Linked DNA regions of Homo sapiens. The protein of the gene in region 3 purifies or fractionates together with the protein of the main gene of each other region. This does not show direct contact. Each region holds a gene or a part of one and is shown on either strand. Other genes may lie near its edges. The genes, in order: AMFR, BRI3BP, RNF185 and TMUB2.

Region 1 (5,594 bases), on a different chromosome or scaffold from region 3:
TACAAAGAGGAAACAGTAAACACTACTAGGCCTTCTTCAAATCTGTTGCTGGGTTAAGATTTTCATATCCACCTATGTAATTGGATTATGCATCATTTGTGAAATGGTGCATGGCTTCTAAGGGGTCCATGTCTACATTTCCAGTTTTTTTTTTTTTTTTTTTTTTTTGAGACGGAGTCTCGCTCTGTCACCCAGGCTGGAGTGCAGTGGTGCGATCTCGGCTCACTGCAAGCTCCGCCTCCCGGGTTCACGCCATTCTCCTGCCTCAGCCTCCCGAGTAGCTGGGACTACAGGCGCCCACCACCACGCCTGGCTAATTTTTTGTATTTTTAGTAGAGGCGGGGTTTCGCTGTGTTAGCCAGGATGGTCTCGATCTCCTGACCTCATGATCCGCCCGCCTCTGCCTCCCAAAGTGCTGGGATTACAGGCGTGAGCCACCGCGCCCGGCCTCCAGTTTTTGAATAGCTGGCGCAGCTGAGATATGGATGCTGTGGGCTTGGGGGCATCTGTGGGTACAGCATATTCAGTCCCTGTCTTGATTTTCCACTGCTGCTTCTAGAGTTAGCATGAAGAGTTCTGGATTTTATATATATATATGTATATATAATGGAGGAAAGTATGTATTTCACAGGGAACCTTGCTGTGCAACATTTTTGGTCATTTGTGAAGAAATACAAAGTCCTTGAATAACAATTAGTTAACAGAAACCTCAGTGTAGCCCAGTAAGCTTGTCAGCTCCACTCTCCCTCTGTTCTAATCTCTGCCCTGCCCCGCTCAGGCTGGTATTAGTCAGGCATGCAGCTGCACAGAGCAGGGGTTGCGGTGGGCGGCTGTTTTCTTTCTAACATCTCGCCTCTTCACTCACCATTTTTTCTAACCTGCTCTAGGGTCAGGCTTAGAGGAGAGGGATAGAATAGGACAGTGAGACTCCAGCGTGTGTGTGCGTGTGTGTGTATGTACCTACATGTTGTGCCAACTACGTGTGTCTGTGTGTGTGTGTGTACATGTTATGCCAACTATCTCCCTGTCCCCATCTGGCCCCAGAAACTCCTCCTTTGACCCTGGGCTGGCTATTGATGACCACTCCCACCTTCATGGGGGTCCTGTTACCTCTCCAAGTGGTCCTTTTGGGCACAGTTGTTTTCAACAACCTTAGGTTGGTTCCCTCCTGCAGGAGCCCTATCCAAGCTCCAGGACACACACAGTGTTGTCTGGAGTCAGTGGAAGGTGAACGTGCTCCCGTCACAGCTCCCCTGGCCCTGTATTTTATTGGCTCCTGCCAGTTTCTTTCTGTAGATTTCTCAAGTGTATGCAGCCACCAGTTCCCCCGTCCTTTGACTCTCGGGGATACGAATGGTTCTCTTGAAGTTCCCTCTCGAGCTTAGCTGAAGGCAGGAAAAAGTGAGGGTAGGTCCAGCAGGAACTCTGAAGTAAAACAGCCTGCCTCTCAGCTGCACCCACCTCCATTCTGTCACAGCCTAGAAGCGGGCAATGGGCTGACCCTGGCCAGCGCAGGTCTGCATCTGGGAGCATGAGCAGCGCAGATGGTCAGGCACCTGCTAGGACCTGGGGGTGCCTGGGCATTGTCGTGGACTTTGGAGCTTCAACCAAAGCCAAGGAACCATATAATCCATCCTGTGTCTTTTCAAAAGATCCTTAGGGCTGGGCACAGTGGCTCATGCCTGTAGTCCCAGCACTTTGGGAGGCTGAGGTGGGTAGATTGCTTGAGTCCAGTAGTTTGAGACCAGCCTGGGCAACAAAGCAAAACCCTGTCTCTACAAAAAATACAAAAATTAGCCAGATGTGGTGGCACGAGCCTGTGGTCACAGCTACTTGGGAGGCTAAGTTGGGAGGATCCCCTGAGCCTGGGGAGGTTGAGGCTGTGGTGAGCAGAGATTGTGCCACTGCACTCCAGCCTGGGTGACAGAGTGAGACCCTGTCTGTAAATAAATAAATAAATAGATGCCTAGCAGTTTTCCTTTTTACCTCTGTTTTCAGAGTCAATTGAGGATATAAAATTTGTGCAGAAGATTGGATAAGACTGGTTTAAATGTTTGAGCAATTAGTAGAAGTGAACAGAAAATTCCCAGGATGTAAACTCACGGTTGTCGTGTTGGTAGCGTATTCTAAGAGTGCAGCTTGAAGGTGCTTACGTTTTTCATGCTGGTAATCATTTACTTACCCTCTGATGCCGAACATTCTGTGTGAGTCAGGTCCTGTTCTTAGTACTACTCAAGCCATAGGCAGCAGGCCTGCCCTCAGGGAAGCTGCTGCTCCATTATCCGTAGCTTGTGGTTCCTAGTTTCTGCCTCCCTGCTTGGCAGCAGCCTTCTCTTTGCGTCCAGAACAGCCGTGTCTGGGGTGCCCTGTAGGTGAGGAACCTGCTTAGGAGGGAGGCCTGTGCTCACAGCTGCCTCCTTGCTTCCTGCCCCGTGTCCAGACCGAGCGTGTGCCACTGGACCTCAGTCCTCGCCTGGAGGAGACGCTGGACTTCGGCGAGGTGGAAGTGGAGCCCAGTGAGGTGGAAGACTTCGAGGCTCGTGGGAGCCGCTTCTCCAAGTCTGCTGATGAGAGACAGCGCATGCTGGTGCAGCGTAAGGACGAACTCCTCCAGCAAGCTCGCAAGTGAGTCGCTTCTCCAGACCACCTGGCATAATCCAGATCAAAAACTAGTGGCTGAAGGCCGTTGTCAGGCCGTCTTCTCTTTTTAAACAGATGCCAACAGTGAAACGGCATTACATGCCACCCCAAAACTCAGATTTCAAGCCTCTCTTGAAAAAACCAGAGCATCTGGTAACACTGGGCCCCACTGGTCTACCTCTGATGCTGGTACTGTCAGTCATCTCCCATGGACCCCTTTGGCCACGCTTGCCGAGAGAGCACTTGTGTGCTAACCTGATCTAAGCCCTTTATATGAATTACTTTAACAGCTCTAAGAGGGAGCACTGTTAACCCATTCAGCTGACATACAGCTGAAGAAATGGAGGCTGGAGAGGTTAGCACTGGCCTGGCCCTGGCGTCTGTCTCCCAGGTCCTCCCTGTTGACCACTCTGCCTTTCAGCTGAGCATTGTACACACACTCAGCGCATCTGTGCGTCACACACCCATGGTTGGTGGCAGCTACAGCAGGTGTGTCCTGTGGATAGAGGGGGTTTTGTTCCAGCTCTTAAGGACAGGGCCAGCACTGTGTTCCTCAAGTGGGTTTGGGCCCTGGCAGACCCTGTGATTGTGGGAGTTCTGTGCTGTGTCTGTGGGTGGAGGGGATGGGCAGGAAGAGACAGCAGGGAACAGCACTGAAGGGTTCCTCCCTGGTGCAGAGAGAATTTGCGCCCATCTGTTGGGGGCTGGATGTCTTGGTCATTGGGTGGTGCTGAGTGACAGCTTCATGAAGGTGCCTGGACATGGGGAGATGTGAAATCAACCTTCTGGCTGTGTTCCACAGCTCCCCATCTCTCCTATGAGAGAGAAAAAGTCTTCTGTTTTTTCTAGACGTTTCTTGAACAAAAGTTCTGAAGATGATGCGGCCTCAGAGAGCTTCCTCCCCTCGGAAGGTGCGTCCTCTGACCCCGTGACCCTGCGTCGAAGGATGCTGGCTGCCGCCGCGGAACGGAGGCTTCAGAAGCAGCAGACCTCCTAGCGCTCCCTTGCCTTCCTCAGCTGCCTCCTGCGCCCTGTGCCCGACTGACTGGAGGAGGCCTGTCCCAATTCTGCCCGCTCCATGGAAAAGCGGGCTTGACTGCATTGCCGCTGTATAAAGCATGTGGTCTTATAGTGTTTGGACAGCTGATAAATTTAATCCTTCTTTGTAATACTTTCTATGTGACATTTCTCTTCCCCTTAGAAACACTGCAAATTTTAACTGTAGGTATGATCTCTTCTGGTGTTGACTGGACTGCTTGGGGTGGGGGACGATCAGGAGGAAGTGAGCAGTCGCCTGCCTGCAGCAGGCAGCTTCTACTCCTGCCTCATGCGTACGTCCCACAAATGCAGGTGTCCTGAGCACCACACCCAGTGGGAAGAGTGTGGGGGAGGCGCACAGTGTGAGCCCGCCCCCACGTCGTGGGGTAACATCTGTTATCAAACTGCTGTCGTTGTTGTGGAAGCATGTAGACTGTGCCAGAGGCCAGACCCACGGGCTCATGCACCCCTGAGCCAGCAGGGCATCTTGGAAAAGGAACTCTTGGTTCGATACCTGGAGCAGAGGAGGGGAAAGTCCAGGGCTATAGGGTGTGATGAAGTCACCCCTTTCTGTCCCACTACATCTGGGACTGACTTTCCGAGCCTCCAGTCCAAAGCCGGCTTGATTTCCGTGAACTCTGGTGCTCCTGCATCTCATGAGTGTGCCCCATGGGTCCCCTCCCCTCTCAGCATTTCCTTGTCCCGTCTGGACCTGGGGAGTGGTTAGGCAGCAAGCTTTGGTTTATGGTTTTCATTCATTGGTGAAGTAAATTAGGCAGTGCTAAAGCCTGTGGGTTTGGTCCTTGAACAAGATGTGGGCCTTGCAAGATGGGAGAGTAAACCTTGAAGGGCTTTATTAAAGAAATAAAAAAGAACTTTTGTATCTTTTATCCTGGGAGCACTGCGTTTTCCTAGCTGTGTTATTCCTGGTTTAATTCAGCAGAGAAGGTAAGGTGTGAACCTACCTGCCTTGGAGAGGGCCCAGGTCCCAAATCTCTTCAAATTCTTCACATGTTTAACTTTAAGGATTTGAACCATGAAGTCATAGGTTACAGACCTCAGTTTTATGCCCCATTGGATTACTTTTTTTTTTTTTTTTTTTTTTTTTTTTTTTACTCTTTGAAAGCTTTGTTTTGTGGTAGTCCTTTTGGGAAGAATCCAGTATTATCCACAATTATTGGCAAAGTTTAAATGTATTTTACATAACGGAAAGTTTTTAGAATGTTGAAAAGTAATTGAAAAAGGTGATAGGTAAATTTTTAGGCAAAGATAATTTATTTCAATAAATCTTTCAAAAGCCTTACCTTGAAATGCTGTTAGTAAATTTCTGTGATTTTTTTTTTTAATTTGTTTTGCTGAGAGCATAGCTATTTGTTTTTATTGTAAAACAATAATAATAATAAAAAGCAAACTCTATTGGTGTGTTGTGTGTGGCTGGAAGCTAAGGCATGTTTTTGTGTGGCTGGAAGCTAAGGCATCTTTTTCCAGAGGTGCCAACGTTAAACCCCATTTTGATTTGGATTTTGTGTATACTATTTTGGTTGGAGGGTTTTTTCCCATGTTTTTGAATTGGGAACTTTTGTTTTTCCTAGTAGTGTATTTGGGGAAGGCAGAACTACATTTTTCTTCCCCTTGTATTTATATCTTTTTTTTTTTCAGGTAAGTGTGTAGCGAAAGATTATTTTACTGTCCTCGAATTACATTATACTTCACACGTTGCACCCATTGTAGGTGCCACTAATTCCACATGTTCACAGGTTTCTGATGTGTGAAAAGAGAAAATTACTTGGATCAATTTTAGAGGGTCTTGACACATTACAAAACAGCCATATCACAGTGTTTAGAGCAGGAGCTTATTAAGTAGCTTAAAATGATGCAAGAAGTGAAGTTCTCAGTCCGCCCTTCCATTTTACACC
Region 2 (7,638 bases), on a different chromosome or scaffold from region 3:
CAGACCCAGTTTTCCTTTATTTAAAATTCACAAAACAGGCTGGGCACGGTGGCTTACGCCTGTAATCCCAGCACTTTTGGAAGGCTGAGGTCGGCAGATCACTTGAGGTCAGGAGTTTGAGACCAGCCTGGCCAACATGATGAAACCTCATCTCTACCAAAAACATAAAAAATTAGCCGGATGTGGTGGTGCTCACTTGTAATCCCGGCTACTCACTTGTAATCCCGGCTACTCAGGAGGCTGAGGCAGGAGAATTGCTTGCCCAGGAGGCAGACGTTGCCGTGAGCCAAGATCGTGCCAACGCACTCCAGCCTGGGTGACAGAGTAAGAGTCTGTCTCAAAAAATAAATTAATTAATTAAATTTAAAAAAAAACCCATAAAATTAACAAAACAATATCCCCAAGCCTGGCCAGTGTGGGCTACACTCAGCAGGAAATAAAATAAGTCAGGCCAGGTGCAATGGCTCACACCTGTAATCCCAGCACTTTGGAAGGCCGAGGCGGGAGGATCACTTGAGGTCAGGAGTTTGAGACCAGACTGGTCAACATGGTGAAACCTCTTTTCTACTAAAAATACAAAACTTAGCCAGGCATGCTGGTGGACACCTGTAATCCCAACTACTTGGGAGGGTGAGTGGGGAAGATCGCTTGAACCTGGGAGGTGGAGGTTGTAGTGAGACGAGATCACTCCACTGCACTCCAGCCTGAGCAACAGAGCCAGACCTCCGTCTCAAAAAAACAAAAAGGAAAGAAGTCAGGTCAGCCTCTGGATGCTGTACTGACTCGGGGAACAGGGAAGGGGTCATGAAGCAGGAAAACAGGCGAGAGATACTAATGTGGGCTCCATGTCCACTCTGCCTAGGTTCACATCCTGGCTCTGCCACTCATCTGACCTGAAACCAGCCACTTCACTGCTCTGTGTCTCAGTTTCCTCATCTGTCAAATGGGAACAGTAACAGTACCTACTGCACAGGGTCATTCTAAGGATTACATAAGATTATTCTATCTACAAAAGCACTTAGTAATCATTAGTATCTCTATTAAAGGCACAAACCCCGGTTTAGCCCAGGAAGAGCTCTGACCCCCAGATTCGGAGATGCTCTGCCAGAATACAGATTGTCTTATTTAAGTAAAAGTCTTAAATAACCACTCGTATTTCATGTTTGTTGGCCTTAGATTGTCACATGGAACCACCGTCAGTTGAGACATGGGGATCCTGTGGTCACCCTGCGTGAAAAAGACAGGCTTATTTTTGCTCTAAAACAAATGATTTCTGCCTTCAAATAGCTCCGAAACGGCATCAAGAGGAAGTAAGTGAGACTCCCTGCACTCACACCCCTGATCCTTTCCCGCGCCAGACTCCAGGGCAACCTTTTCACATTCAGGCGTTCAGCCCTGCTTCCTTGCCCCTCTTTGGCCACCTACAAAGCGTTCTCTCCCCTACATGTATGAAGACACAGACCCACCTGTGCAAGAGGTGCCCCTGCCCACAGGAGAGGGAGGTCAAAACTTACTGTTTTCCTAACAAATTAACCTTTCATGTTATCCAGTAAGAACATGCAGTCAATCTGATTTCGGCCTTCATATTCCCTTCTATTCCCCACTCCCTCTCAATGAGCAGAAAACTTTAACTTTTTAGCCATGATTCTGGGCCAGGAAGGTACCAACTAGTCATAATTACAACCTCGCAATGAAGGGGAATGATTACTATCCCCATTTAACAAATAAAGAAACAAGCTCAAAGAAGTGAAGTCACTTCCCCAAAGTCATCCAACTGGTAGAGCTCCAACTTGAACCCAAACTTCTCTGACTCCAAAACCCCAGGAAGGCTGGCGGCAAGCAAGAGCCCCCTCCTCCCCAGGGAACAGCAAAGGAACCGCAATACCACACACAACTGTCCCCAGTAACTTCCTCCTTCTCAAGAGCTAGTCGGCGGACTTCGGCCCGGAATGGCACCCCTATCGCACCTAGCTCCAGAGAGCAGGAATTGGGGAAAACCCCCTGCGATCCTCCTGGGACTCAACACCCTTCCCAGGAGGCTGCAGGATCCGGGACCTCCCCAAACTAAACAAAAGGCTCCACGCGAAAGGCCCCGCACACAGTAGGTGCTCGGTTTCCCAAAGCCACCGAGCAAATCGCATTGCTCCCTTCTTTTCCTGTAAAGTAAAAACAACTCCAAGTATCTTCAAAGCAGGAGGAGGAGTGGGGCAGAAGGTCCCAGGGGAAGTGGGTCGGGATGCGAGGCTAGGACAAACCCGGGGTAGCTGGGGAGGGCGCAGCCGCGTGGGGACCGAGAGCGCCAGTGTGCTGCCTGGCTCACAGTAGGAGCCATTCAAACGCGGTGAATGAATGAATGAGACGCGCGGCAGGCGTCAGCGCAGCCGGGAGAGACTCTGGCTGCGCCGACCGCGGAGGCAAGGTCCAAGGAGAAGCGCGGCGCAGAGGAGAGGGCGCCCCGAGGCCCGGCCGCCCAGACCCGCACTGGTCAGGCCCGGCGGGGGCCGCAGGCGGCAGGCCCCGAGGCGCAGGCCGGACCCCCTCTTCCCGCGCGCTGGCCGGGCGGGCAGCCCCGGAGGCCGCGCTCCTCCCAGGTCGGCCCCGGTAGCCAGGTGCGTGGCGACCGGGGCAAGGTGACCGCGGGCGCGGGCCCGGCGCCCACCTTCTGAGCGGCGCGCACGTTGTCCTCGCCGAACAGGCTGCTGACGCTCTGGGAGAAGGTGTTGACCGTGCGGCGGTAGCTGTTCTTCTCCGCGCCGCCGCGGCCCCGCGCCCCCTGCGCGCCCGGGGCCAGCAGCCCGAGCAGCAGCAGCAGCAGCAGCAGCAGCAGGAGCCCGGCCCGGGCCAGGGGCCCGCCTGAGGCGCGCGCGCCCATGCTCGGCCGGCGGGGCGCGGGGTCGCGATGCGGGGTGAGGGCCGTGCGCTGGGCCGCAGCGGGCTCCGGCTAGGGCAAGGTTGGCGCGCTCGGGGGCCGCGCGCCGCGCCTTTACCCACAGCCGCCGCCGCCGCTGCTGCGCCACCTGCCCCGCCCCGCGCGCAAAGGCGCACGGCCCAGCCCACGCCGCGCCCCGCCCCCGGCGCGGGACCAACGCGACCCGGCCCCGGGGCCCCGCGCCCGCCTCCCGGAAGCCTGCCCCGACCCGGTGCGGCTTCTCATCATTTAAAAAAAAATTCTCTTTTTTAACTTATCCGTGGAAAAGCAACCCGTGCCTGTAAAACTTGCAACAGCTTCAACCAGGAAAGTGACTGCAACTGATTGAAAAACATGAAATAGACATATATGTAATCTCCCTGAATGTATTATAATGGTACCCCAAAATTCGCCCTCGTGGGCATCAGCTCATTCATCCTGAAAATTTTAAATAACAAGAAAGCATCAGGCATCCTCCTGCCCTTCCTGAATGAACTGTATTTCAGAGCCCCAAAATAGTTGGGGAGGGACTTTCTTTTACAAAGTCCAGCTAATACATGAGGATGAATGAGAGAATCCGAAAATTATTTGGCACCCCTCAATAGAATGATGGATTCACGCGATGATCATCAGAAATGGGTACAACCAAGAGGGGAGGGTTTGGCGGGGAACTTGAAAATGGAGGGGCTAAGCCGCGAAGTCCCGGTCCCGCCAATCGATCTTAGTGCCAGGAAGTACCAGCGCCACCTGCGATGGATTCTTGCCAAGACAAGTTGAGCATGAACCTGATGGGGCCTCTAGATCAAACCTACAGTTTACAGGAAATATGGCAGATAAGGAAAACTTAGAAGCAGCAGAAGCAACCAACCAACTCCAGCATGTGGGGCATTCTACCAAACAAACGACCCAGTTTGTTCAATAAATAATTGGTATAAAAGGTGAGCGAAGAGGAGGATAATTGGTTTTAAAGACTTAAGAGCCATAATAACCCATGCAATGCAAGGACCCTGTTTGCATCCTAAATCAAACAAATCAAGTCTAACCAACATTTTTTTTAGACAACCAAGAAAATAAAACTCAATTTTTGCCAATCCAAAGAATACAAAATGCTCTTATTTTTGAATTTACATTTTCTGGATTCCTAGTAAGATTTTCATAGATTTATTGGCCATTTGAATTACTTCTCTGTGAATTACCTATTCATATCCTTTGCACATTTTTTCCTGTATTGTTTATCTTTTTAAAAACTTTTTTGTAGGTCGGGTGCGGTGGTTAACGCCTGTGATTCCAGCACTTTGGGAGGCTGAGGCGGGTGACCTGAGGTCGGGAGTTCGAGACCAGCTTGACCAACATGGAGAAATCCCTCCGTCTCTACTAAAAATACAAAATGAGGCCAGGCGCCGTGGCTCACGCCTGTAATCCCAGCACTTTGGGAGGCCGAGGCGGGCGGATCACAAGGTCAGCAATTTGGGAGGCCGAGGCGGGCGGATCACGAGGTCAGGAGATCGAGACCATCCTGGCTAACACAGTGAAACCCCGTCTCTACTAAAAATACAATAGCCGGGCGTGGCGGCGGGCGCCGTAGTCCCAGCTACTCAGAGCCTGAGGCAGAAGAATGGCGTGAACCCGGGAGGCGGAAGTTGCAGTGAGCCGAGATCGTGCCACTGCACTCCAGCCTGGGCGACAGAGCGAGACTCCGTCTCAAAAAAAAAAAAAAAAAAAAAAAAAAATCCAAAATGAGCCAGTTATGGTGGTGCCTGCTTGTGATCCCAGCTACTCGGGAGGCTGAGGCAGGACAACCGCCTAAACCTGGGAGGCGGAGGTTGCAGTGAGCCGAGACTAAGCCACTGCACTCCAGCCTGGGCAACAAGAGTGAAACTCCGTCCCAAAAACAAAACAAAACAAAACAAAAACCTTTTTTTACGCCAGGTGTAGTGGCACAAGCTTGTTTTGGGAGGCCAAGGCAGGAGGATTGCTTGAACACAGGAGTTCGAGGCCAGCCTGGCCAACATAGTGAAACCTATCTCTATAAAAAATGATAATAATAATAATAATAATAAACTTTTTAATTAAGGTATAACATACAGAAAAATACACAATCATATAAATTTTTATGAATTTTCACAAACTGAATACCCAAGGTAACCAGCACCCAAATCAAGAAACGAAACATTACCAGTTCCCCCACGAAGCCTCCCTTTGTCCCCTCCCATTCACTATGTTCCTCTTAAAATTTAGGGGATTCATTTGCCTGTGTTTGAAGTTTATGTAAATGAACCACACAGTACTCTGGGGGTTGGCTTCTTTTGTTCAACTTTTTTTTTTATTTATTTTTTATTTTTTGAGACGGAGTCTTGCTCTGTTGCCCAGGCTGGAGTGCAGTGGCATGATCTCGGCTCACTGCAACCTCCGCCTCCGGGGTTCAAGCGATTCTCCTGCCTCAGCCTTCCGTGTAGCTGGGACTATAGGCACGCGCCACCACACCCGGCTAATGTTTGTATTTTTAGTGGAGACAGGTTTCGCCATGTTGGCCAGGCTGGTCTCAAACTCCTGACCTCAGGTGATCCGCCTGCCTTGGCCTCCCAAAGTGCTGGAATTACAGGCGTGAGCCACCACGCCCAGCTTTTGTTCAACTTTATATTTGTGAGATCCATCCATGCTGTTATGTATCTGCCTTCTTCTTGCTGTCTAGAATGGTCTATACCTTCTGGAAGGTAATTCACTGATATATTATATTTTAGAAGGAAATATAGGCAAGTGTACTACTACCTACTTAACATTTTTTAAACGTTTCTTAAACTTTTAATTTATTTAAATAAACATATTTAAAGAAGAAACTTTAGATCACTATCATCCTGAGCAACAAAATCCATAAAAACACAGATTTGAGCCTGGGTGCAGTGGCTCAGGCCCGTAATCTCATCATTTTGAGAGGCCAAGGTGGGCCGATCACTTGATGTCAGGAGTTTGAGACCATCCTGGCCAACATGGTGAGACCCCATCTCTACTAAAAATACAAAAATTAGATGGGCATCTTGGTGGGTGCCTGTAATCCCAGCTACTTGGAAGGCTGAGACAGGAGAATCGCTTGAACCCGAGAGGTGGAGGTTGCAGTGAGCCGAGACTGCTCCACTACACTCCAGCCTGGGCGTCAGAGGGAGAGTTCTGTCTCAAAAAAACAAAAACAAGCAAACAAACAAAAAACCCCATAGATTTGATACGCTAATTATGATTTTTTTAAACGTCATTCATTAAGGCCTTCACAGTGGCTTATGCCTGTAATTCCGGCACTTTGGGAGGCCGAGACAAACGGATCCCTTGAGCCCAGAATTTTGAGACCAGTCTAAGCAACATAGGGAGACACCATCTCTACAAAAAAATAGAAAAATTAGCCCGTCGTGGTGGTGTGTGCCTGTAGTCATAACTACTCAGGAGGCTGAGGTGGGAGGACAGGTCAAGGCTGCAGCGAGTGGTGATTGCACCACTGCACTCTGGCCTGGCCCACAGGGCGAGATCTCATCTCTTAAAAAAAAAAAAAAAAAAGTCGGGCGCGGTGGCTCATGCCTGTAATCCCAGCACTTTGGGAGGCCCAGGCAGGCAGATCACGAGGTCAGGAGTTTGAGACCAGCCTGGCCAACATGGTGAAACTCCGTCTCTACTAAAATACAAAAACTAGCTGGGGGTGGTGGCGGGCACCTGTAGTCCCAGCTACTCGGAAGGCTGAGGCAGGAGAATCGTTTAAACCCGGGAGGCAGAGGTTGCAGTGAGCCGAGATTGCTCCACTACACTCCAGCCTGGGCAACAAAGCCAGACCTTGTCTCAATAATAATAATAATGCATTGTTTCCCAGTGTGTTACAATGTGATGCGGTAATGGGAATTTAAAGTTATGTAATAGACAACTTTATTTTTTTTTTTTTGAGACAGAGTCTAGCTCTGTTGCCCAGGCTGAAGTGCAGTGGTGCAGTCTCGGCTCACTGCAACGTCCACCTCCCGGGTTCAATCAATTCTCTGCCTCAGCCTCCCAAGTAGCTGGGATTACAGACGCCTGCCACCAGGCCTAGCTAAATTTTTTTTGTATTTTTGGTAGAGACGGGGGTTTCACCATCTTGGCCAGGCTGGTCTTGAAATCCTGACCTCGTGATCCGCCCGCCTCGGCCTCCAAAAGTGCTGGGATTACAGGCGTGAGCCACCGCGCCCGTAGAGGCCTCCTTTTAGATCTTCCATCTATCCCTGTGATGGAAATATTTGGTGCCTTTTTAAAAGTACACGACTAATACGTTTCTTGTAGGAATATCAGAAAATACAGATGCGCAAACCAGGGTTGGGGGGAAGAAGTTTGGAGTACTGGGGGCGGGGTATATTTTAAAAGGTGGCAAAACACTTCCACTCCCAAGAAGCCAAATTAGTATCAGTAGATATAATTCATATTTAAACCCAGACTACCCCAAGCGAGAACAGCCCAGGACTTAAACTCCGGCCTCCGCTGGGACCTCAGGCCCCGCCTACTTCTCTAAATAGTCCCGCCCCCTGCCCGGCCCGGCTCCGCCTCTCCTCTTCGCTGGGTTTCTCTTGCAACCCCGCCCCTCAGCGGCAAAGTCAGTTACAGTTCTCGCGATAACACAACCCGGAAGTCTCACGGCCGGAGTTGGTGGTCTGGGAACCCACGTGGGCTGGGTTTCGGATTGCTCTGCTGGTCCGGCCGCTGGAGCGCCCACCCTGGCCTAGTCG
Region 3 (7,036 bases):
AAGTGACCCCAGCTTTAGCTACTGCAATTATGATTTTTATGGGACAGCAATTTCTTGCATCTCTACAGAGGAAGAAGAGGGGGAGTGGGAGGGGAAGGAAAGAGAACAGAGCGGCACTGGGATTTGAAAGGGGAACCTCTCTATCTGAGGAGCCCCCACTGGCTTCAGAAGCAACTTACCAAGGGGTATTTAAAGACATGAAAATTTCCAGAAATACCATTTGGTGCATCCCTTTGTTTCTGTAATATTAAACTCAGGTGAAATTATACTCTGACAGTTTCTCTCTTTCTGCCTCTTCCCTCTGCAGAGTCAGGACCTGCAGAACTGGCTGAAACAAGATTTCATGGTGTCACCCATGAGAGATGACTCAATGCCAAGGCCTGAAGTTATAGAGTGTTTACAGCGGTGGCGATATTCAGGGGTCATCGCCAACTGGTCTCGAGTTCCAAAGCTCTGATGAAGAAACAAGACTCCTTGATGTGTTACTGATCCCACTGATTCCAGGAGTCAAGATTAGCCAGGAAGCCAAACACCAGGAGTTGGGGTGGCACGTCACCAGTCCAGAGCCCTGCCACGGATGTAGGCAGGAGCCCAGCATTAGGCAATCAGGAGCCAGAACATGATCACCAGGGCCACAAATAGGAAGAGGCGTGACAGGAACTGCTCGTCCACATACTGGGGTGTCCCAGGGACAGCTGGAGAGACAGAAAGGAGAAAACAGGCTATTAGAACACTGCAGCTATGCACACTGCCCACTCAGGCCAGAAGTTGACAGCATCAATCTTTATCTCTTTACAACATCAGAATCCTACACACAAAAAGATTTCTTTTTTTTTTTTTTGAAATGTAGTCTCGCTCTGTTGCCCAGGCTAGAGTGCAGTGGCACGATCTCAGCTCACTGCAACCTCCGCTTCCCAGGTTCAAGCGATTCTCCTGCCTCAGCCTCCTAAGTAGCTGGGATTACAGGTGTGCGCCACCAAGCCTGGCTAATTTTTGTATTTTTAGTAGAGACGGGGTTTCACCATGTTGGTCAGGCTGGTCTCGAACTCCTGACCTTGTGATCCGCCTGCCTCAGCCTCCAAAAGTGCTGGGATTACAGGCATGAGCCACCATGCCTGGCCTTTTTTTTTTTTTTTCTTTTTGAGGTGGAGTTTTGCTCTTGTTGCCCAGGCTGGAGTGCAATGGCACGATCTCGGCTCACTGCAACCTCCACCTCCTAGGTTCAAGCGATTCTGCTGCCTCAGCCTCCTGAGTAGCTGGGATTACAGGCACGCACCACCACACCCGGCTAATTTTTTTTTTGTATTTTTAGTAGGAACAGGGTTTCACCATGTTAGCCAGGCTGGTCTCAAACTCCTGACCTCAGATGATCCGCCCACCTCAGCCTCCCAAAGCGTTGGCATTACAGGCATGAGCCATCGCGCCCAGCCAAAAAAAATTTCTAAACCCCAAATAATATCAGGCAAAATGAAACTATGTGGAACAATAACAATAAGGACAAGACACGGTCCAATTTATCATAAAAGGTTTGGCCTGCACATGCAAATAAACCAGGTGATTAACAGGAAACTCTTGCAGGAAATAATGAAAGCAAGCCTACTATTTGTTAAGTATCTTCTATCTGCTAAGTGTTTTGTACATGTTATTATTTGGTGGATATTATTATTTCCATTTTGAGTAGGAAGCAGCTGAAACATAGGTTTGAGGTGACCTGTTCAAGATTGAAAGGCTCAGAAATTAGTGGCAGAGCTCTGCAGCCTCTCCACACACTGCCTCTCAAGGGCCCCACAGGGATTGCCTTCCTTTTCCAGAAGAGAACTAGGATCCAGACAGGCAAAATGACTTGTTTTTCAAGGTAGAGGCAGAACTGGGGTGAGAACCTAAGTCTCCACTCCTCTCTGCTTTAGGAAAAGCTACCATTTAGAGCTCCCTGTCCTGACTTTGGGGGAAGGAGGATAAAAGAATCTGTGTCCAGGATGGGCAAATTGTACCAAGCATGACAAGGGAAAACTGTGACTGTGGCAGGGGGATAAAGTAATCCAGAGTCTAGCCTGGCTGTGGAACTCTGCTTAGCTGGGGAATCCAAGGTTAGCCTTCGACCAGGTTAGAAGGATGCAAGCTATCAGGCAGGTTCTTGCTGGCTTCACAGGAATTTGCCCTTTCTTCAGGGCAGAGTACACCCTATCTTTTGGGGTATACTTCCTCTGAAAAACAAATGTGAACAGAGGATAAACCTTCAAGGCAGATAAAGTAAGAAAGGGCATCCCCAGGGCCGGGCGCGGTGGCTCACGCCTGTAATCCCAGCACATTGGGAGGCCCAGGCGGGCGGATCACGAGGTCAGGAGATCGAGACCATCCTGGCTAACACAGTGAAACCCTGTCTCTACAAAAAAATACAAAAAAATTAGCCAGGCGTGGTGGCAGGCGCCTGTAGTCCCAGCTACTCGGGAGGCTGAGGCAGGAGAATGGCGTAAACCTGGGAGGTGGAACTTGCAGTGAGCCGAGATTGTGCCACTGCACTCCAGCCTGGGGGACAGAGCGAGACTCCATCTCAAAAAAAAAAAAAAAAAAAAAAAGGCATTCCCAAGATATCTTGGTGCTGAGATTCCTCAGCTAGATGCTCTGATGGATTCACGAAGACAGACAGGCAGGCAGGCAGGCAGTCAAGAAAGACTTATAGATCACCTGCTGTGTACCAAGGACCAGGGTGGGGATGAGAATAACTGGGATGACCCAGTTACCATCTTTAGGGCATAAGCTCTTGGCGTGAACCACACAATGGTCACTTCTGTACCATATGCTGTGTCCAGTGCACATGAAGCTCCAACAAGTGCAGGCAGAGCTCAACCGATCATGGCATCTCTGCAGGCTCCACAGTAAGGATCTTGGCTTGGGTGTCAGACTGTGATAAGAGTTCAAGGCACCCACCTCATAGAGGTGGCTTGCACCTATAGAGCAAGGGCTCTATACCGAATGCGGATGGCACTTTCAAGCAGTAGGAGGGAGAACTGCAGCAGCAGTTGGTAGACCTAGGCATGGTTCCCACAGGGCTGAGGCTGCTTCTGACCAGCCTCATGTTGTGTCCTGAAGGAAGCTAGACAGAGATGCCAGAGAATGGAGATGCCTTCACTCCTTATGGGTCATCTCACATTTCCAGGCCCCCAAATGGTCAAAGTGGGAAGTAAATGTGCAGAACTAGGCTTTTCCTCAGCTGAGTATCACTTACAGTTTTCCATTTTATAGACATGGGGTATGTCTTGGTAACATTACTGAGCATTTTCTGATCTGTTAAACGCAGCTAATCACACACCTGTTCCATAGGGTGGTTGTGATGATCCCCTGAGCTTGGAATGGAAAGTGCTATATATATGCATGCCTAATAGTTGGTAAGTGCTCAGCATTGTTACCATGTCTGTAAGTGATCTAAAAACAGCTTAAGATATTTTGAAAAGGCTGATTATCCATGTAGTGACAATTATCTGTAACTTATATACTGCTGAATTCCAAGGAGCTTTCAAGCAATATTACTAAGATATCTTCCTAATTTCTCAAGGAAATAGGGTCTTACCTGGAGGAGGCCGCCCATCATTTATATTAAATGCTGTGGCAAATATCCCAAAGGGAAATGCCCCAATTCCAAAAGACATCTGGAAGCCACCATCTCCAAATCCAAATCCTTGAAATCCCTGTGTGGAAGAAAGGCAATTAAGGGCAGGAGAATCAGGCAGGTTTCTCCTGTGCCTGTCAAAACTCAACATACCTCACGTTGTCTTGCATGTGGCACCTGCCTCTTCTCCCTACCTTGTGCCACATGTTTCGAAGGTGGGGGACAGCTTTTCCTCCCATATATACCCTGAAGTAGAGGAACTCTGGCAAGCCCTCTGCCCTTTTAGCCTTAGCTTCCAGCTAAGAATCTATGAATGGGCCAAAAAGGACTGGCTCTGACCCAGTGTGAAACACTCTGCTGACATAAGTCAGCACTCACAGGGCTTGAGGATATTTTCCATAGTCCCACATTAGCTAGTAACACCTTCTACATGCTTTATAGGAGCAATATTGACAGCCACCCCTGTGCCCAAGGGAACATCAAACAAGCTACACATTATCTTTAATAGCAAAAATGTTGAAACTCTAATTAGCCAACAATGGAAGTCATGATCAAAATCTTGATACATGCATTCAAAGAACCATTACCCTGACTTAAGCGGTAACACTGAACAACTCTTGTGACCAAGTTATCAGACAAAATTGTTTGAACACTGTGGTCACAACTACATGACAATATGTAGGTATATGGACAAGTTACGGATTAAAATTTCTTTTAATACTGTTACATAGAATTTTTACATTTTAAAACACTATAATGTTTTCTGGTTATAAAAGTAATATATACTTGCTATAAGAAACTCACATATTACAGAAATAATTGACAGAGTCAGAGATCTTCTATTCACCTTCCCACTTCGCAGCCACTCCACTTTACCTCTGAAATAACCACTATCAGCAGTTTGGTATATCACCCTCAGTTTTCTTTCCATGTGCATGTTCTACACTGCATCATCTTTCACATGAAAAGATTCAGCAGGAACAATACTGTGAATAAATAACTCCCTTTTTTAAAGCGTGAGCTCTGTGCTAGGCACCATGTTAAGCACTAGGACATATAAATCATGTTTAATTTTTACATTGGCTTCATCTGCATTTCACAGATGACCAAACTGAGGCTTGGAGAGGTGAAATAACTTGACCAAGGAGTACAGTTTAGATCTAAAACTAGGTCAATTTGATCTGAAAACACATGCTTTTCTTTTTCTTTTCTTTTTTTTTGAGACAGGGTCTCGCTCTGTCACCAAGCCTGGAGTGCAATGGTGCAATCATGGCTCACTGTAGACTCAACCTCCCAGGCTCAAGCAATGCTCCCATCTCAGCCTCTTGAGTAGCTGGGACCACAGGTGTACCCCTCCATGCTTTGCTAATTTTTAAATTTTTTGTACAGATAGGGTCTCACTTTGTTGCTCAGGCTGGTCTCAAACTCCTGGGCTCAAGTGATCCTCCCACCTCAGCCTCCCAAAGTGCTGGGATTAGAGGCCAGAGCCACTGTGCCCGGCCTTCATGCTCTTAATTACTGTGCGCATCTTTCAAATATTTTTTTCTCTTCCCCTGCACCCCTGATGAGAGGTTTAGAACAAATGATTTTAAAAATAATAAAAAGCAGACAGACTATTGGGTCAAATGCTCTTCACAAAGAGCTCAATGGCCTTCATTTATGAGTTTTTTGCAAGTCACAAAAATAGCTGCTCTCCATCACACACTGATCAGCCTGGCATCTAGTTCCAAACTTCTTGCCAGATGGCATCACCTATAAAGCCTAACAGCTGACTTAATGAGAGGGCAAACCTAAAGGGAGGGAAAACAAAGAGTTTCCATCTCCTCAATACAAAATGCCTCCTACTCAGTTCATGGTTGAATCTAATGGCTCCTGGGACTGAGGCTGCCTTACTTGGGAAGGTGCAATTGTTTCATCAGGAACCACAGATTCATTCAGTGCAATCCTGAGGACTAACCGTTCTGCTTCCCTTCTAGCAACATCTTTATGATCTCACCAGTCCATACATTTGGTGGGATTATGTTCCTGGGCCAGAGTATGCAAAAAAACATCGCTAGTAGCTGCAGGTGCTTATAAATGCTAGAGGTATGCACTTTGGTCAACAAGGCCAGGGCCTCTGGCTTCTGGGGGCCTCTGATTCCTGCATTAGTTGCTAATGCTCTGTAGGAAACCAAAACCTAGGAATGTTAAAGTGGTGTCACCTGGTGGTCAAGAGCAGAGACTTCAATACCAGCCAGATCTGGGTTTCAGCACTGTACGTGTGGCCCTGGACAGATCACTTTACCTATCTGGGCCTCAGTTTCCTCCTCCGTTAAATGAGTTGATGTGAGGCTTAAATGAGATCATGCATATAAAGCTCTTAACATATAGTTATTTCCATATAGTAACCATTCAACAAGTGTTCACTGCTAGTATTATTATTAAGGGTAATCCGGAGAAGAGAACCTTAATTTCTTTCTTTCTTTTTTTTTTTTTTTGAGACAGAGTCTTGCTCTGTCGCCAAGGCTGGAGTGCAGTGGTGTGATCTCAGCTCACTGCAACCTCTGCCTCCCGAGTTCAAGTGATTCTCCTGTTTCAGCCTCCCGAGTAGCTGGGACTACAGGCACATGCCACCACACCCGGCTAATTTTTATGTTTTTAAGAAAGCAGAGACAGGGTTTCACCATATTGGTCAGGCTGGTCTCGAATTCCTGACCTCAGGTGATCCACCCGCCTCAGCCTCCCAAAGTGCTGAGATTACAGGTGTGAGCCACCACGCCCAGCCGAGAACCTTAATTTCTTTCAAGATCCCTGACTCAATAATCCTACTCCTGGAAATCCTAATAAAATGCCATTATTCAAACTCAAAAAAAAAAAAAAAAAAAAAAAAAAAGAAAGTGGCAGTGCGCGGTGGCTCACGCCTGTAATCCCAGCACTTTGGGAGGCCAAGGAGGGCGGATCATCTGAGCTTGGGAGTTCGAGACCAGCCTGACCAACATGGAGAAACCTCGTCTCTACTAAAAATACAAAAATTAGCTGGGCATGGTGGCCCATGCCTATAATCCCAGCTACTCTGGAGGCTGAGGCAGAAGAATTGTTTAAACCCGGGAGGCAGAGGCTGTGGTGAGCCGAGATCGCACTACTACACTCCAGTTGGGCAACAAGAGTGAAACTTCATCTCAAAAAAAAAAAAAAAAAAAAAAGTGTGCAAAGATGGTTATTGTAGCATTATTTAAACAGCAAAATGGGGAAACAACTAAAAGGTCCTTCGATGAGGAAAACCCAAATTACAATGAACCAAAACTCAATGGGTTCCCAGCAATAGCATGGAAAAATAAAAAATAATAAAAAACTCAATAGGATAAATGGCAGCCTAAATAATAAAGAGGACACTTCAGAGCATCATGGAAAACCTGCCAAAATTAAATTTTAAAGCAAACAGAATGGTGA
Region 4 (6,931 bases), on a different chromosome or scaffold from region 3:
CCAGCCTGGGCGACAGAGTGAGACCCCGTCTCAAAAAAAAATAAAAAAATGAATAAAAATAACAGAAACACAAAGCCTCTCATAGACCCAGAACCTATAGTACCTATCACAGGAGGGAACTGGGGAGGAGCTCCCAGCAGTCTTCTCCTGAGTCAGCAGTCTTTTTGCTGAGGGATCCTAGGGTCTCCAGTCCCAATACCAGTTGGAGTTATACAGTGGAGACAGGGATCCAAAGTCCTGGGGTCTGCCTCCTGCTGCAGCTGCCCAACTTTCCCTCCTCCAGGAGAGTTATATCTTTGGGATTCCATTTCATCAACACAAAGACAGTTTTTTCACCTTGTTATGCAGAATGCAACACCCCCTTTCTGGATGAAAATTTGTGCTTTAGTTTTACAGAGCCAAAAGGCCTGACAGAAGAAAAAGAACTCCTCCCTAGAGAGGGAGGCTGGGAGCCTCACTCTCAGGGGCAATGCTGAACTTTCTACCCCTTTACAGCACGCCGACCACAGCCAGCTCAGCCTTTTCTGATATATTTACAACTACAAAAGATACCGTTAAAAAAGAAAAATACCTGGGTGCAGTGGCTTACGCCTGTAATCCCAGCACTTGGGGAGGCCGAGGCGGGTGGATCGCCTGAGGTCAGGAGTTCAAGACCAGCCTGGCTGACATTGTGAAACCCTTTCTCTACTAAAAATACAAAAAGTAGGCCAGGCGCGATAGCTCACGCCTATAATCCCAGCACTTTCGGAGGCCGAGGCAGGCAGATCACCTGAGGCCAGGAGTTCGAGACCAGCCTGGCCAACATGGTGAAACCCTTCCCTACTAAAAATACAAAAATTAGCCAGGTGTGGTGGCACACACATATACTCCCAGCTATTCAGTAGGTTGAGGCAGGAGAATCACTTGAACCTGGGAGGCGGAAGTTGCAGTGAGCTGAGATCTCCCACTGCACTCCAGCCTGGGTGACAGCAAAACTCGTCTCCAAAAAAAAAAAAAAAAAAATCAGGATACAAGGCCAGGTGTGCAAATCCTGTTGGTGGACAAATCGCCTCTTTGGGGGCAATTTGGCCACTTCCTTAAACACTGTTCCCAGTTACACAAAAGGCAGGCTACATACAGGAATATTCCTCTCAGCGTTGCTTGCAACAACTCATGTTGGAGTGGTTAGACAAATCCATATTACCCATGGCAGGAAAGAACTAGGGAGGGATTCCAAGTGACCAGCATGTGTACTGCCTTGGGAAGATCTCCCAGAGTGGTTTTTATTGATTGATTGAAACGGGGTCTTTCTGTATGCCAGGCTGGAGTGCAGTGACGCAATCACAGCTCACTGTAGCCTTGACCTCCTAGGCTCCAATGATTCTCCCACCTCAGCCTCCCAAGTAGCTGGGACTACAGGCACACACCGCCAGGCCTGGCTAATTTTTAAATTTTTTGTAGCGACAGGGTCTCGCAATGTTGCCCATGCTGGTTTCAAACTCCTGGACTCAAGTGATCCTCCCACCTTAGCCTCCCCAAGTGCTGCAATTACACTCTAGAGCCACCATGCTCAGCTGAAGACAATTATTTTCCTTTACATTTTTTTTTATTTTGAGACGGAGTCTCACTCTGTCTCCCAGGTTGGAGCATAGTGGCGCGATCACAGCTCTCTGCAATCTTGACCCTAGGGTCAAGCAATCATCCCACCTCAGCCTCCTGAGTAGCTGGCTCATGGCTCACTGCAGCCTTAACCTCCTAGGGTCAATCATCCCACTTCAGCCTCCTGAGTAGCTGGGACCACAGGCACACGCCACCATGCCCAGCTAATTAATTTTTTTTTAGAGATGGGGGTCTCACCATATTGCCCAGGCTGGTCTTGAACTCCTGGCTCAAGGGATCCTCCTGCCTCAGCCTCCCAAAGTGCTGGGATTACAAGTATGAGCCACTGTGCCCGGCTTTGTGAATGTACTTAATGCCACTGAATTGCAAACTTAAAAATAGTTAAAATGGTTTTAAGTTTTATGTTACGTATATGTATATATTTATCTTTAGAGATAGAGGTCTCCCTGTGTTGCCCAGGCTGGCCTTTAACTCCTGGGCTCAAGTGACACTGCTGAGTCAGCCTTCAGAGTAGCTGGGACTACAGGTGCATGCCACTGTGCCTAGCTATGTTTATTTTACCACAATGAAAGGACTTACAAAAAAGAAGCTAGACACCGAAGAGGATACACAGTTGGATTCCATTTATAGCAAGTACAAAAACAGGAAAAACTAATGTATGGTGACAGACGTCAGAATAGTGATTACTCTTTGGAGGTTAATGGCTAGAAGAAGACATGAAGGGGGAGATTCTGGGGTAATTCTTTCTTTTTTTTTTTTTTCCTGAGACAGAGTCTCGCTCTGTCACCCCAGCTGGCGTGCAGTGGCTCCATCTCAGCTCACTGCAACCTCCGCCTCCCAGGTTCAAGCCATTCTCCTGCCTCAGCCTTCTGAGTAGCCAGGATTACAGGCGTGCGCCACCACGCCCGGCTAATTTTTGTATTTTTAGTAGAGACGGGATTTCACCATGTTACCCAGGCTGGTCTTGAACTCCTGACCTTGTGATCCGCCTGCCTTAGCCTCCTAACGTGTTGGGATTACAGGCGTGAGCCACCGCGCCAGTCCTAATTATCTATTTCTTGATCTAAGTGCTACTTCTGCCAGTGTTCAGTTGGTAGAAGCCACCGAGCTTTTTGCTTATGTTTGCCCCTGTCTGGATTATTTATCCTTTAATCAGTAGTTCTCCAAAACCCCAAACTCCAGCGCTTTTTTTTTTTTTTTTGGAGACAAGGCCTCCCTGTCGGGTGCAATGCAGTGGCTCAGATCATAGCTCACTGCAGCCTCGAACTCCTGAGCTCAAGCGATCCTCCCACCTCTGCCTCCCAAAGCGGTGGGATTACAAGAGTAAGCCACTCCCCCCGGCCACAGTAAGTTTTTAGAAAAAATTTTAATTGCGGCCGAGCGCGGTAGCTCACGCCTGTAATGCCAGCACTTTGGGAGGCCGAGACGGGGGCGGATCACCTGAGGTCGGGAGTTCGAGACCAGCCTGACCAACATGGAGAAACCCTGTCTCTACTAAAATACAAAATTAGCGGGGCGTGGTGGCGCATGCCTGTAATCCCAGCTACTCGGCAGGCTGAGGCAAAAGAATCGCTTGAACCCGGGGGGGCGGAGGTTGCAGTGAGCCGAGATCGCGCCATTGCACTCCAGCCTGGGCAACAAGAGCGGAACTCCCGTCTCAAAAAAGAAAAAATTTTAACTGCAAAAATCTGGATAAGTTCTTGAAAGCTGGACTTTTCCCCCTTTTTGTGTCCTAAGCCTGCGCCGAATCTGTGCCTTCTTTGAAATGCTTTCCCGCCTTCTTTCTCCGGGTCCCACACTACCTGGGGCCGCACTCTTCAAGCACTGGATGCTGACTAACTGGTCTCCTTATCTGTCTTCCCGACTGGCCCAGAGCTGAGTTCTTACTAATCCCCGCTAACCTGGAGTTAGGTGCGCGTTGCAAAGCAGTAACGAATCCAATCAGCCGGGGAGGCAGACAGCAGGGCCGGAAGAACAAAGCTGGAAAGGGAAACGTCGCACCGGCTCTGCCCAGCGGCGCCAGCCCGGGCAACCTTCCGCAGTCGCGAAGCCACGCCCCTTTCCCAAGTACCTCCGCGCTAACTCCTCCCCCCTGGCCCCGCCTCTCACCCTGGATTGCCTAAGGCCCCGCCCACCAGGCGTGGCCCCGCTCTGGGAGGGCCGCAATCCCGCCAACAATGACTCCACCCCTCCTTCCGCTGAGAAACCTGTCCCTTTTATTTAAAGAATACCTTTTACGTCAGCCCGTCTTACGCAGCTTCGCGTCATCAGTGCAAGGCGCGGAGGCGGGACTTCCTGTCCCTGGTATAACAGCTTCCGGGAGAAGCCGGAAGAGACCGGACCCTGAACAGAATCGCAGATTGCCAGCCCTTTTCCCGACCCCTACGGAAAGACGAGTCCAGGGGCCGTCCTGGCGAGGTCAAAACATTTAGTCTGGTCTTTTCAGGTGAGGACTTCCCCATCCAGGCACAGTGCCGGTCCAATCCCCCTTTAATTTCCCATGACTCCTCGCGTCCTGAAGCCCCGCCCCCAGTTCCCCAGCCCCGCCCCGAAGTTTGAGGGGTGTGGACGGTTTGTGACCCCCTTAGCCGACCCTACTCCTCACTGGCCGGGACAACTGGTCTTATCACGGAGGCTGGGGCCAGGCAGCCCTTCGGTTCGGGTGGGCCCATGGACCCCAGTCCAACGCCGAGGGAATAGGACCATCCAAAAGCGGAACCTTCGCCTCAGAAAAAGGGTGCGGGACCCCTCCTCACCGTGCGGTCACGGTACGGACAGGGTAGATCACAGGCTGAGGGACAGAGCAAAGACCCCTGAGGCCGGACACCTGGGGTCCTGCCGGGCCCCTCCCCACGAGAGTTCCCTGTGTCTGTGCCAATCGTTTTCGTCTTTCTTTGCCGCAGTTTCTTTTCCTGTAAATCATGGTTAATAACATTAACCTTCTTACCATCAGGGGTTAGTTGTGGTTGTGATAAATAATTACTACCGTTATTAAGCAATTGCAATTTGCAGTGTGCCAGGCACTGTGCCAAGTATTTTGCTTCGATGATTTCACGTCATCTTCAAAACAACCTCATGAGGTAGGTACTGTTTTTAACCCCATTTTACTGATGAGAAAGCTGAGGCTCTGAGAAAGTTGTCTGAGGTGTTATAGCTAGTAAGACGCAAGACTGGGGTTATAATTAGTTGTTTTTCTAACTCCAGGGCCGGTATATTAAATAAGGATGTTGATGTGTTCCACAGATAATTCTTTGAGCAACTACTGGGGCATTATATTGGACACTTCAGTACCAAGAGAAATACATACGATCCTTGTCTACCAGGAGTCTAATAGAAAGATGGACAGGTACATAAGTATAATGAAGTTTTATAGGTGCTGTGAGAATAGTCTGATAATGGTAATCACCAGACTGGATTTGCCCAGGGACAGCTGTGAAAGCAGCAGATTCTCCAAGGGAAATAGTAGGTACTCCAAGGAGCAAGCAGGGACCCTTCCTGCCTTTCTAAGAAACTGCAGCAGCAGAACCTTCACAGTGAAAGAAGAGAGACTGAGATATGGATTGTGAGAGCTGTTATGGAATCTTTTTCAAATCACTCCACTTGGGGAGTGGTCATTGCAGGAGTGGGCCCATGGTGACCCAGGAAGGTGGTGCTTCTGGTGTCTGTCCCAAGTTGCTCCCCAGGGCTTGCCAGAAGTTTCAGAGGCGGCACATAATGTCTGCTGCATAGTATCTGCCCGCGGTCCCTACAGAGTTATCGTTTTAGATTTGTCTGACTCTGCTTTTGATGGTAGGTCAGTTTTCTTTGGCTCTTGACATCTGGCAGCCTGGATCTGTGACCAGGAATGAAATAGGCTCAAATGAGACAATCTGGCAGGGATGGCTAAACAGTGCTTCCAGGGGGGCCCCACAGTAAAATATTCCAGGCTTTTGGGTCTCTCTGAAGCCACTTTGGAGGCTGCTTAGGAGGCATATTTGCTTGACCAAGCGATAGAAATCCTAGAGAAACTCAGGCCTCAGCAAAGATTTTTCCTCATTCACCAAAAAAGCAACAACAGTAGCAGCAGCAGCAAGGCTGTGGGCTTTTCCTGCTGATCCACACTCATTGGGAAGTTGGAGTTTGAGAGAGGAAGGTCACAGAACGTGAAAGCAAGAGTTTCACAATAGAGGCAAAGGGTAGGGTAGGTCTTTAGGTTTAGGTTGGGGTGCCGGAATTAGGAAGGTTTGTGCCCCCTTCTACACAACACTGAACTCCTTTTTTTTTTTTTTCAGGGCTGGGTCAGTTAGAACCTAAACAAACTAGAGACCTGGTTGCAACCCCTCAGGCTCTGCTGATGCTGTCCCCCTTTGTTCCTGCAGCGTGGACCCTGCCAGCAGCCAGGCCATGGAGCTCTCTGATGTCACCCTCATTGAGGGTGTGGGTAATGAGGTGATGGTGGTGGCAGGTGTGGTGGTGCTGATTCTAGCCTTGGTCCTAGCTTGGCTCTCTACCTACGTAGCAGACAGCGGTAGCAACCAGCTCCTGGGCGCTATTGTGTCAGCAGGCGACACATCCGTCCTCCACCTGGGGCATGTGGACCACCTGGTGGCAGGCCAAGGCAACCCCGAGCCAACTGAACTCCCCCATCCATCAGAGGGTAATGATGAGAAGGCTGAAGAGGCGGGTGAAGGTCGGGGAGACTCCACTGGGGAGGCTGGAGCTGGGGGTGGTGTTGAGCCCAGCCTTGAGCATCTCCTTGACATCCAAGGCCTGCCCAAAAGACAAGCAGGTGCAGGCAGCAGCAGTCCAGAGGCCCCCCTGAGATCTGAGGATAGCACCTGCCTCCCTCCCAGCCCTGGCCTCATCACTGTGCGGCTCAAATTCCTCAATGATACCGAGGAGCTGGCTGTGGCTAGGCCAGAGGATACCGTGGGTGCCCTGAAGAGGTGAGTGGCCTGGGAAGTGGGAAGCTGCTTGTGCTCATCCCCCAGCCCTTGGTTGCCTCTAAGGAGGCTGGTGCAGACATGGGAGCTGCAGCAAAGTGTAAGATCCAGCCCCTACCAAGGGCAGGTAGATACTTTCTTAGAAATACACCCTTCAGGCCGGGTGCAGTGGCTCCCGGGACTTTGGGAGGCCGAGGCGGGTGCATCACGAGGTTAGGAGTTCGAGACCAGCCTGACCAACATGGTGAAACCCCATCTCTACTAAACATACAAAAATCAGCCGGGCGTGGTGGCGCACGCCTGCAATCCCAGCTACTCAGGAGGCTGAGGCAGGAGAATCGCTTGAACCCAGGAGGTGGAGGTTGCAGTGAGCCGAGATTGCGCCACTGCACTCCAGCCTGGGCGACAGA

The links.
Region 1: the proteins of RNF185 (region 3) and AMFR purify together in Homo sapiens (affinity purification with mass spectrometry; 3 studies listed by BioGRID and IntAct, with this or other methods). This does not show direct contact.
Region 2: the proteins of RNF185 (region 3) and BRI3BP purify together in Homo sapiens (affinity purification with mass spectrometry; 3 studies listed by BioGRID and IntAct, with this or other methods). This does not show direct contact.
Region 4: the proteins of RNF185 (region 3) and TMUB2 purify together in Homo sapiens (affinity purification with western blotting; 3 studies listed by BioGRID and IntAct, with this or other methods). This does not show direct contact.

The regions. Positions count from the first base shown.
Region 1 is NC_000016.10:56,360,952-56,366,545, reverse strand, and holds the end of AMFR (E3 ubiquitin-protein ligase AMFR), read left to right. Parts: intron 1-2,440; coding exon 2,441-2,625; intron 2,626-3,489; coding exon 3,490-3,637; 3' UTR 3,638-5,094; downstream 5,095-5,594. UniProt on the Homo sapiens protein: E3 ubiquitin-protein ligase that mediates the polyubiquitination of lysine and cysteine residues on target proteins, such as CD3D, CYP3A4, CFTR, INSIG1, SOAT2/ACAT2 and APOB for proteasomal degradation.
Region 2 is NC_000012.12:124,989,025-124,996,662, reverse strand, and holds the start of BRI3BP (BRI3-binding protein precursor), read right to left. Parts: upstream 3,019-7,638; 5' UTR 2,873-3,018; coding exon 2,660-2,872; intron 1-2,659. UniProt on the Homo sapiens protein: Involved in tumorigenesis and may function by stabilizing p53/TP53.
Region 3 is NC_000022.11:31,198,148-31,205,183, reverse strand, and holds part of RNF185 (E3 ubiquitin-protein ligase RNF185), read right to left. Parts: intron 3,687-7,036; coding exon 3,569-3,686; intron 696-3,568; coding exon 598-695; 3' UTR 1-597. UniProt on the Homo sapiens protein: E3 ubiquitin-protein ligase that regulates selective mitochondrial autophagy by mediating 'Lys-63'-linked polyubiquitination of BNIP1.
Region 4 is NC_000017.11:44,183,065-44,189,995, forward strand, and holds the start of TMUB2 (transmembrane and ubiquitin-like domain-containing protein 2), read left to right. Parts: upstream 1-3,907; 5' UTR 3,908-4,045; intron 4,046-4,138; exon of another isoform or gene 4,139-4,611; 5' UTR 4,612-4,644; coding exon 4,645-4,679; intron 4,680-4,842; exon of another isoform or gene 4,843-4,937; coding exon of another isoform or gene 4,938-4,945; intron 4,946-5,870; exon of another isoform or gene 5,871-5,957; coding exon 5,958-6,524; intron 6,525-6,931.